Regions from separate parts of the Homo sapiens genome. Here region 1 is linked to region 2. Evidence: fine-mapped expression QTL. A gene starts in region 2. The other region holds a variant in brackets. All regions are shown on one strand. Distances are between the middles of the regions.

Region 1 (5,375 bases), 150 kb after region 2:
TCTCTCACTCTCTTGGCAAGTTCCTAATGAGTCAGCCTTTCCTTCAGCTGATCCCTGAATGCACTTCTTTCCTAACTGACCAGGTCTCTCAACTGGCATTCTCTTTCATAACTCCCTTTACAGTGTCTTCAACCTGGATCAAATTAGCATTCTTTCCAGGCCCCAATTTCCTGTTCTCTTCTTTGCTCTTCCTATTCCTGGTAACTTAAGCAGTCATGAAACGATCTGTTGATCTTAATTGCCACCCCGGTGTCCCTCCCAGACACCACAGAGGATGGGCAGATGTGTCTGTCTCCTGCACTTGACAAAGACCTTATCTTCTTTTTGTGTCAGCCCAGTGCCTAACTTTCAGAAGATGCTCTATACCTAACTTTTGGAAGATGCTCTATATTTGCTGAATGAATAAATGAATGAAGAAATAATTTCTGCCTTCAACAGGCTTACCATCTAGTTGGACAGATAGGTACAGCATGTCTTTCTCATTGGACATCACTGGGGGATTAAAAAAATTCTAGACAAGTGAATTTCCCAGATAAATGAAATTTATTCCTTTAAATATCTAATTATATTTCTTAGACATTTTAGATGAGAAAATTTAACTTCTTTTTTTAATTTCTTCTTATATCAGTTAGGACTCTTTATGTTCCCAGTAGTAGAAAACTTAATTGAAACTGGCTTTAATAATAAGAGAATTTTCTTATCTGAAAGCATTGGGTTCGCACTTAGAGGTGTGGATTGTTTCAGAGCCCAGACAATCTCATCAGGATGTAGTTGTTGTTGTTTTTTTCCCCTCTCCATCTCTGGTCTTTTCTTGCTAAATGTTTGCTTCATTCTCAGACAGGTTTCCCTTTGAAGTACAAAATGGTGCCAGCGGCTCCCAGGGCTACCCTCTGCCTTATTCATATTCAGTAGGAAGAGAAGAGGATCTCTGTTAGCTTTCATAAAAGGAAGAGGCTTGTCTTTACCTGCAGACTCAGGTAAACCAGTCCCTGACTGGTTTACATACCCATCTCTGAACCGATTGGTAGTAAGGAAATTGGAATACTGTGCTTTTTTTTTCCTTTCCTTTTTTTTCTTTTTCTTTTTTTTTTTTTTTTGGAGATGGAGTCTTGCTCTGTTGCCCAGGCTGGAGTGCAATGGCGAGATCTCCGCTTACTACAACCTCCACCTCTCGAGTTCAAGTGATTCTCCTGCCTCAGCCTCCCAAGTAGCTGGGACTACAGGCGCCTGCCACCATGCCTGGCTAATTCTTTGGACCAATCTAACCCACTCCTGGGGGTGGCATCAATCACACTCAATCAGCAGGGCTGACATGGGAAGGCTGGAGAGAGAAGGGGAAACAGATGCTGGAGAGCAACCAACCAGTATCTACTACCTCCTTCTCTTCCTTTCTCTCTTTCTTTATCATCTTCTCTACCTCTCCCCTCTATGAAAAGTTCTGTGCTAGGAGTAGAGGCTATAAACATGAGAATATATTCCCTGCCCCTGAGGTCCTCCTGGGTCAGTCAACGGGTAACATGTAAGAATGTAATTATAGCAATGGTAAAATGCTAATAATTGAGAAATGGGAACACAGCAGAGAGGTGGACAGTATTATTGTCCTGGGGAGGTCAAAGAAGGCTTTCCAAAACTGTTAGAACTTGAGCTGATTTTGTAGATTGCCTAAGAGGTAACCAAATAGTCAAGAACAGACACAGCATTCCTTTCAGAGGGAACAGAAAATCCCAATGCAAGTAGATGTGAAAGATGGAGGTGAACTCCAAGTGGTTCTGTATGGCTGTAAGAGAGGTGATAGGGCCTGGTGAGACAGGAAGGAACTAAGACAGACTGTTTGTCAGACACGCTACCGGGCATGGTAAACGCACCACCCTGTTTAGTTCTTACAATGACCCGATGTGTTCTGTAATGGATAAGCCACTGTTAATTCCTACAATGACCTGATGTATTCTGTCATGGATAAACCACTTCACAGCTGTCACTCCTCCTTAGTCCACTTGGCGTCATTCTCCACTCTCTATCCCCTGCCGCACCACCCCCCCCCCCCACCCCCCAACGTCTCTAAGTATAGAAAAGATGAAAGTGGCAGAAACAGATTTTTTTTTAGGGGAAAAGCAACAAAAACAGAAGAAATATAATCCCTGGACAGGCTGTTCTCTGTGAGAAGACGTGACTTCTCAGGCACTTGTCATGTGGGAGTCGCTGTGGTGAGGTTAAAGGGGATGCGAGTATAACCAGCTGCAACAGGGAAAGCTGGTGAGAAGGTTCTGTTAGGACGGAAGGGTAAGAGGCTCCCAAGAATGGAGTGCTAGAGCAGAGGACAGGGCAAGTGATTTAATGCATTTCTGTGAACTGAATTTTTGGACCCTGTATTCATTATATGCACCTAAGTATTGCAAAACTTGGCCTAAAATAATATAAATATTTATCTCACACAGTTTCAGTGGGTCAGGGGTTTGGTAGTAGCTTAGCTGGGAGGTTCTGGCTCAGAGTCCATCATGCAGTGAGGTATTGGCCAGGCTTGACTAGGCTGACAAGAGCCACTTTCATGATGACCTACCCACATGGCTGTGGGCAAGAGGCCTCAGTTCCCCACCACGTGGATCTCTCCACTGAGCATCCTCATGGCATGGTAACTTGCATCCCCCCACCCCCCCGCGCCCAGATTGAGTAATCCAGGAAATAGCAAGATGGATGTGGCAATGTCAGAAGTCACACACAGTCATTTTAGCAATATCCAACTAGTAACACAAGTCAGACCTCTCTGGTGTTGGGGGAAGGGACCTATATAAGAGTATGAATACCAGGAAGTGAGAATCACTGGGGGCCTTGGAGGCCAGCCGTCACAGAGATCCTTAAATGTTTGAGGAAGACCTGAAGAAAGAATTAAAACTTTTCATTATAGGCCACATTCATTAAATGCTTTGCTGCACGGAAACTGAACAATTTTGACTTCTGTCTTTATGCGCTCATTTTGGTGCCTTTAAAACCTATTTTACAGATGGAAAATATTAGTCTATGTCAATAACCATTAAGGAGTGGCTGACCTTGGTCCACCCAAATCCGAAACCCACATAGCTTCCACAGGGTGAGACTAAAGATAGGAAAATATGTTAAGAGGCTCTGCAGTGACAGTCCGTAGTTAAACAGTAAGTGGATTGCAGAACCAGGA[T/A]GTGATCCCAGTTATTTCTTGCCCTCTAGTCCAAACTCATTCTATTGTTCTGGACAATAGAGTTTCTAAATTTCTCTTTCTCTCACTGTTTGTATTCATTTATTCAATGAATATTTTAGAAGCATAAAAACATTAACTTCTTCAAAGGAAAGGATTCTTTCTTATTAATGTTGCTATTCAAACATCAAAAACAATGTCTTGAACATAGTAGGTAATCAATATATCTTATTTTTTTATTGCTTTAATTTTATTATTAATGATTCATTACCTTGGGCAATGTATCAGTCATGGTTGTCAGGAAAATAGAAGTTACTGTAGGCATTTCAGGTTGGAAGCGAATTTAGTATGAGGAGATAGAGGCTTACACAATCCTTGGAAGGGCTGGGGAGCAATGATTGGGAAGACTGCTGCTCACTACCAAGGAATCTGTTTACCAGGAATCCTGGCAAAGCCGCTACCAGGACCTAGGCTACCCGCAGCACCTAGTGATGATTCTCAGGATGGTACCTAGAAACCCCGCAGCTGCCTCCAGAAAACAACGTCTTCCCCTTATTCATCTTCCAAATGTCATCTGAATATCTCTCATTGGCAGAGCCCCTGCTGGAAGGGACTCTGGGAAATCTAATTTCTAGGTTTTCAGTGTCTGTGGTACAAAAGACAGTGATGGGGAACATACTGACCGTCAAAAGACATTATCTGGTGTAGGGATTGACACTCAGATTCTTATGGCTAATCTTAAAGGGAACTTGCATTTGCTTATTATGATACGATATTCTTTGGAGGGCTAACAATTCACGTGACAGATAGTTAAGATCTTCAAAAGAATTATTAGTCTTGTCTTTAATAACATTAACTATTAACAGTAATTATTATTCATAGTGACAACAACAGCATAAGTCAATCAGTATGATCATGAGTTTTAGAATTCTAGAAACCTAGGTGTGAATGTCTGATCTGTGACTTTGGGGAAGTTGTTTAGCCTCCTGACCAGGATAAAGATTTCTCACTGGGATGGAGATAATAGAATCTTCCTTGTAGGCTTGTGGTGAGAATTAAATTAAGTAAAACCTATAAAATACCCAGGAGATACTTAAGAGGTGGGGGCTCTTTTTATTCAATACCAATCACAAAATACTTCAACATACATGATGACATGTGACTAGCCCAATTGGGAGGGGAAACATGAGGAGGAAGAGAAGAGTAAGAGACATGAATTCAAGGAAGGGTCTAGAAGGTTAGAGAGAAAGGCCGAGATGCAGGACCCCAGGTGAAGGGCTACAGTGGGGGTGGCCTGGCAGGCCCCAGGAGAACACTAGGCTTGGAGTTGGCATAACCATCATCTTGTCAACAGCCTCCTTCCTGCTGTCTCTGTTTAAATTGGAGGACAGGAAATAAAAACAAGTGCTGAGTCTATAAAGGCTCTGAATGCTAACATCTGAATGATGACCAAAGATTTAGATACTTTTTTTTTTGCCAAATATTAAAACAATAATGTAAACACTGAGGCTTTTCTTGGGCCCCGGCTCCAGCCCCGGAGGCTTCTGTGGCTCCATTTATAACTAACAGATGAAGAGCAGAGACTGTGGGCTTTGCTAGGCCCATTAACTTGGTCTAATTATTGGAAAATGTTTTTTTCCCAGTGATTAATCACAGATGAAATATTTCAACTCACTTCATGATTTTTTCCCTTACTGTTTCCGGAGCAAACATACTCACACACTTCTCTGTTCCTGTCCTTTGCTTTGGGAACAGACACTCCATCACGCACATCTCGGGCAGTCTTGGAGAAGCACCATGCTGCCCCCAAGGAGAGCAGGAATTCAGGGCCACACTTCTGAGAGGGCTACATCCTGGTCTTCAGCACCCCCAAAGCCACCCATTTCGGTGTCCTTAGTTTTTGATATGGGAACTCGATGTTTTCTCAATCAAGTCCAAGCATTTGTAGAAATAACTTTTGCAATTTGTATTAATTTTTAACACATTCTAACTTAAAGTAATGTGTTTGTTATACACATTTGGATTTAAGTCAGTTTCCTTTGCAACTAGGCTGCAACCCCTGATCCTGAATAGAAATTGAGGAGCTGGTGCTTTTCATCACAGCTCTGCCTCTTGTTAACTGTGTAGTTATCTATGTCACTTCTGTAGGCTTCAGTTTTGTCTTCTGTGAACATGGAATAACCTCCCCTATTTCTCGGAGTTGTTATGG
Region 2 (5,375 bases):
GGCAGCCTTTTAAAACTACATTTGCTTAGGATCCCTACCTGAATGACAATGTGTTGGGATCCAATTTCACCTTTTGTCAAGGACTGGGTGAGAAACAGTAAAATGGCTGTCAGCATCTTAGAAAAAGCAAGTCCTTAGCTTACAAGGAAAAGGCGTGGGGGGGCGGGATAGGGGGGAATCCTAAGATTTCTTGTCCAGCCCTAGGGATGGAGTGAAGGTGGCAAGTGCCTACAAATCCTACAAGCAGAGTCCACAACTCCAATATATTAAGTTTCCTTTATTAAAAGAGGTGCCTCAATGCAAAAATACAATTGTGCTCTGAATGGAAATATTCACCACTGTTTTTTTAATCCTAGTTTTCTATCTTTTCTAAAAGTCACTTCACTCCTAAGAACTCAGCAATAATCAGAAATCAGAAAATGCATATGGAAAAAATTGCAACTGAATCTGAACCTGAAAGATCGGCATAGTTGAATGATGCATCTTAAAAGCTTATCTATTATTATGCAAATCAAGAAAACCCAACTCCATTGCACTTCAGGGCTGGGTGTCTGCAAATAAATGCAAAATTACCTTTCAAAATCCATCCACTCCTCAGTCCTCATGTCACCCTTTAAAAAATTCCGGTGGTCTTTCCCCACAGTAGAGAAGGTCTGTGGAACTTTCCTCAAGAAAATTGTAACCTCTTGGGAGGAGATTGGTGTGGGGAAGTGGAAAGAAGAGGAAGGAAGAAGGAAAAAGAAAAGAAAGAGGAGGAGAAGAACGAGAAGGAGGAGGAGGAGGAAGAAGAAGGAAGAAAGAAGAGAAGGAGAAGACGAGGAGGACGACGCGACGAAGAAGAAAGAAGTAAGAAACCTAAATCCCAAAAGTGACTTAAACACCTCTCCCGGTGGGAGGTGGAAGGAGTGGTCACAGTAGGATGGAAATCAGAAACCTATTCCAAGAACGCATTCTTGGAAACTTCAATCTTTCGAAGACCACATTCATCCCCATGATTGTTAGAATGTGTAAGAGAATGGTGTTATTTTATCTAAGAATGTTATAGCAAAGGTTTCAAGCTGGGAATGTCATCTCAACCTCTCCTAATCTAGTGGGCCTTTATGGCCAAGTGGATTAAAATAACAGCGGGGCAGAATCTCCAGGTGGTTGGTGTTCAGCAATTTTTACTACTGTTGGTCGTGAGTAACATCATCAGGATTCCTTACTAGCTGCGGGCAGTTTTTCTGTCAGCCCTCCTTCCTCTCCCGAGGAGGACGGACATGATAAACAATCTGGAGAAATGGGAACCTTATTCACTTTGCTCCCTTTTTCTTCGACCCAAAAAGGCACACACGAAACAAAAATCATACAGCAGACAGCACGCAAACTACAGCAGGATATGCGGAAAGCAACAAAAAGAGTCCCCCAGCAGGATTAGAGTCGGGAGTCTACCCAGAATCTACCAGGCCAGCCCCTCCCCCCATGCTCCCGGGAGGGGAAAGGAGCGCGGAGCCCACTCGGAGGGCCGCTCTCCGCCGGGACCTAGGTGTCCCCGGGGCAGCTGCGTACTCTGCGGCGCCTTCCCTCCCGGCGCCCATTGGTGCGCCTCGGTAGGGAGGACGCGAGGACGCGAGGACGCGGTCAAGGGGGTGGGGTGGGGACTTCGGAAAATCGTCCGAGCCAGACGGGGCTGGCTGCTCTGGGATGGGGACACAAAGGGGGAGTTTGCAGGCGTGGCAGGGTGAAAACAAGCCTACATGGGAAATGTGTGCAAATTAGAGAAGACGTGCGAGGAAACTGGAGAATCCTTGACGAGATGAAGGCGCTGGTACTCAGAAGAGGGGGGCTGTGCAGGGTCAAGTGGGTTCCGTGCAGAGGGCAGGGGATTCTCCAGAGAAGGGCAGGGGTAGACGAATGCATGGAAGAAGAGTTGGTGTATTGTCAGGGGGTCTGTGCAGAGGACAGAGGGGTCCGACGGGAAGCCGGGCTCTATGTATGCAAGGAGCCGATGCACACAGTCCAGGGGACTTGTACCGGGAGTGGGATGGGAGTTTGAGCAAAGGAGAAAGGCGGGATGTCTGGCCAGCTCGGGGGCCACTTACCTGCATGGTGACGACCCCCAGCTCCTCGGCCGCCAGCCTCCGCATCTGGCTCGCCAGCACTTGCGCCTCGTCCAGGATGGAGAAGTCGGCTTCGGCCCCGGCGCCCAGGAGCCAGCACGCGACCAGGCAGAGCAGCCAGAGGGGCGGCCGCCGCGCCCGGGCCACGGCCGTCTCCTCTTCCTCCGGCTGGCGGGCCATGCTGCCTCCCCCCACTCCCCGCCGACGGGCTCCGGGCGCGGGGAAGCGGGCCGCGGGAGGTGCCCCCCGCAAAAGCGCGGCGCACCCCGCAAAAGTTTCTTCCTCTGTTGCAGGCTCTGCTCCGCGCCGCGGTGGCGAAGGCTCCCAAACTTAGGGGGCGCCCGGCTACAGCGCGGGAGCGCGGGCGGCCACCATCGCGGGGCTCCGCGGCGGTGGGGGTAGGAGGCGGCCGCCCGAGCGGTCCCCGGAGCCCGGCGCCCACACGGGCCCCGCGGCGCAGAGGGCGTCTCCGAGAGCAGGGGCGCCCGCAGGCCGGGGTGCGCGGGCCCCGGGGCTGACAGTCGGAATCGGAGTCGGAGTCGGAGCCCGAGCCGAGCCGCGCGGCTCTCGCTTCCTGCGAGTCCCAGCGCAGCGAGCAGGCGGCGGCGAGGACTGACGGCGGCCCCCGGGGAAGAGGAGCGGCGGCCGGGCTGCGAGACTGGGGCAGCCACCCGAGCGAGGAGGGAAAGGGGAGGCTTCACAAACCCACACAACTGAAAGAAAGAAAGCAAGCGGTGGGGAAAGGGAGGCGTCTGGTGCCACCACGCTGCGCTCCGGCTCTGTGCACTTCCCGGCTGGGCCGCCGCGGCGGCTGCGGTGATTTATGGAACCAGCAAGAGAGGCGGGGAAATTCCCCCGGTTGCCCCTCCTCTCTCTCCCTGGCTCCCGCCTCAGAACCTGCCCCCCGGGACGCCGGGGGCCGGGGGACCAGCCTCTCTCTCTGCTCGGGGACCGGCCCAGCCCGGGCAGGGGAGCCCACGGACCTTCCCGTGGCTGGAGACGGAGACCCCCGCCAGCGCTCCCCGCCTCCGTCCGCGCCAGGGAGCCCACCCGGCCCAGGTTCCAGCCATCGAAAAGTCCTTTAAGTTCTAGGACGCTGGCTGTCTGCCTGGCAGCGGTTGGGGAAGAAGGGGACTGCCATGTGTAGGTCCACTCCCTCTCCTTGATGTTATTCATCACAATGGCTAGCTAGCGTTCCACCCACAGATTTCTGTTGCAACCAGCCACCGTGTGCCCGGCACTGGGCTCGGGGGTGTGCACATTATCCTTTAATCTCCGCGACATGCCATAGGAGGTACGTATCTTTATCCCAATTTTTTAGGTAACAAAGACTGAGGCTTAGAGAGGTGGAATAAATTGCCAGAGGTCACCCAGGGGATAAGAAACAAATCCAGAGTTTAAGCACAAGTCTTACTCCAAGGCTATTGCTCCTAAATACGATACAGTTCTCTCTGTCTCTCTTTGGAAATGAACCATCTGATCCCATCAAAAGCAAGAAAAAAGAAAAAGAACGACTGAACCGGAGTCCACCGCGCACACACCTGTTCTCCCAAGCATGGAGAGGCAAGGTTAACCTTCCTGTTTGTCCCTGACTACTGGCTCAGGCTCGCTGAGAAATCACCTGTTGGAAGCACCTGGAACAAGTCAACCTGCTGTGTGTGGAGAACAGCCACTCTCCCTTCCAAGCCCTGTGTGGTTGCTGCTTGCAGGTTCCTGGAGAACAGAGCCAACACTGGAAGGTTAAAGGACTAGTCCAGGGTTACCTAGCAGAGGTGGTAGCAGGATTAGAACCTGGATTTAGGACTCTTTTCATTTTACAGCAAAACCTTCTGTTTTACATCTTTGACTATATTGTATTAAAAAGTCATCTTCTCTTGTAAGCTCTCCCTGGCCCATTTTTACCTCATTGAGATCACTTCTCCATTCTCAACTCCCCTGCTAATTTTTGTATTTTTAGTAGAGACAGGGTTTCGCCATGTTGGCCAGGCTGGTTTCAAACTCCTGACCTCAGGTGATCCACCTGCCTCGGCCTCCCAAAGTGCTGAGATTACAGGCATGAGCCACTGCGCCTAGCCTGTGATGTTTGTTTTACATACTAAGGCAAGCATGTTGAGTGTGGGGACCAATCCCTTCACCTCCACATCATCCACACAAGCACATAGTAGTACTGGAAAAATGATTCTTGAGTTAATAATGAGGTAAAAACCTACCTGTATGTCTTCTATTCCTGGAGTTGAGCTGACATTTGTTAGAAAGATGATCCTTTAACTTCCGTTTTTTAAATTGTTGTACCTTTGACATGACACTCCGCAAGAGAAAGCATATTAGTCCATGTGATTAGTGGAAGAGTAAAGAACAAAAATAATAATGACATATAGCATTATTTTTTTATTTGATTCTTCAAGGTTACCATCACCAAGGTGTCACACATCTCTAAACTCCTTCTGAAATGCCTTCACAATAGGCATTTATTGCCCATCTTTTATATGTTGGTATTTCTTGAGGTCCTATTTCTTGGGATGCTAATCCAATGTCACCTTTTTTTCACTCTAAGGTTCTTCTTTTTGAGGACTCTCGACCACATCTATGCCTTCAATTATTACCAAACACGAGTTTATCATACTTCTAAATAAAGCTCAACCTGGATCTCCATTTTTTCTAGCAAGTTCCTGACTTCTCTAGTAGATATACCTGAATGAAAACTCATTACTGCTTTCCCCCATGTTCCACCTAAATCCATGTCTGGCTGCAAATCTAGGTGGATGTCACCCACTCTGCAAGCTAGGTACGCACTCTCCATCCACCCCAGCTCCCAACATATCTCCCGTGTCCATCCCCCGCTGTCCATCTGCATCCTATGGCCTGACTTCAGTTCCTCATTGCAGCTTGCCTGTATTATGACCAGTCTCCTCATGGGTCTCTGTGCAGTCTCTCTGTTCCCCCTCATTCTGTTCTTCACATGGAAGTCAAAATCAACTTTCTAAAAGTCAAATCTCAACTTGTCATTCACTAATCTAAACATTTCTGATGCCCCATCACAGATAAGTAAACTTAACAAACAAGGCCCTTTGTGCTCTGACCCTGTTTGCTCTTCTGGCCTTTTTGTAGCCACTGTGCCCCTCAGTTGCCTCACCACTCCCAGAAAACACCTATATGGCAGCCTCAAAATTCTTCCCCTTCTCTCCACTTGCTAGGTCCCCTATTCAGCTGAGGTGTCATTTCTGTGACACCTACCCCCACAGAGTTTACGGCTCCTCTTTGGTGCTCCAAAGCTCT

What was found.
Region 1: its variant is fine-mapped to the expression of CACHD1 in nasal epithelium (TOPMed, PIP 0.98).

The regions. Positions count from the first base shown.
Region 1 is chr1:64,317,951-64,323,325 of GRCh38, reverse strand. No RefSeq gene overlaps it. Among named protein-coding and RNA genes, the nearest start is that of UBE2U, 120 kb to the right of the region's middle. The variant T/A (reference allele first, on the strand shown) is at 3,170.
Region 2 is chr1:64,467,649-64,473,023 of GRCh38, reverse strand. It overlaps CACHD1 (cache domain containing 1), which reads right to left and starts at 2,895. Exons shown (of 27, transcript NM_020925.4): 1 at 2,082-2,895. The coding sequence starts at 2,279. It overlaps LOC107984966 (a long non-coding RNA gene), which reads left to right and starts at 2,999. Exons shown (of 2, transcript XR_001738100.2): 1 at 2,999-3,838; 2 at 4,654-4,751. RefSeq lists an enhancer at 1-766 and a silencer at 2,566-2,685.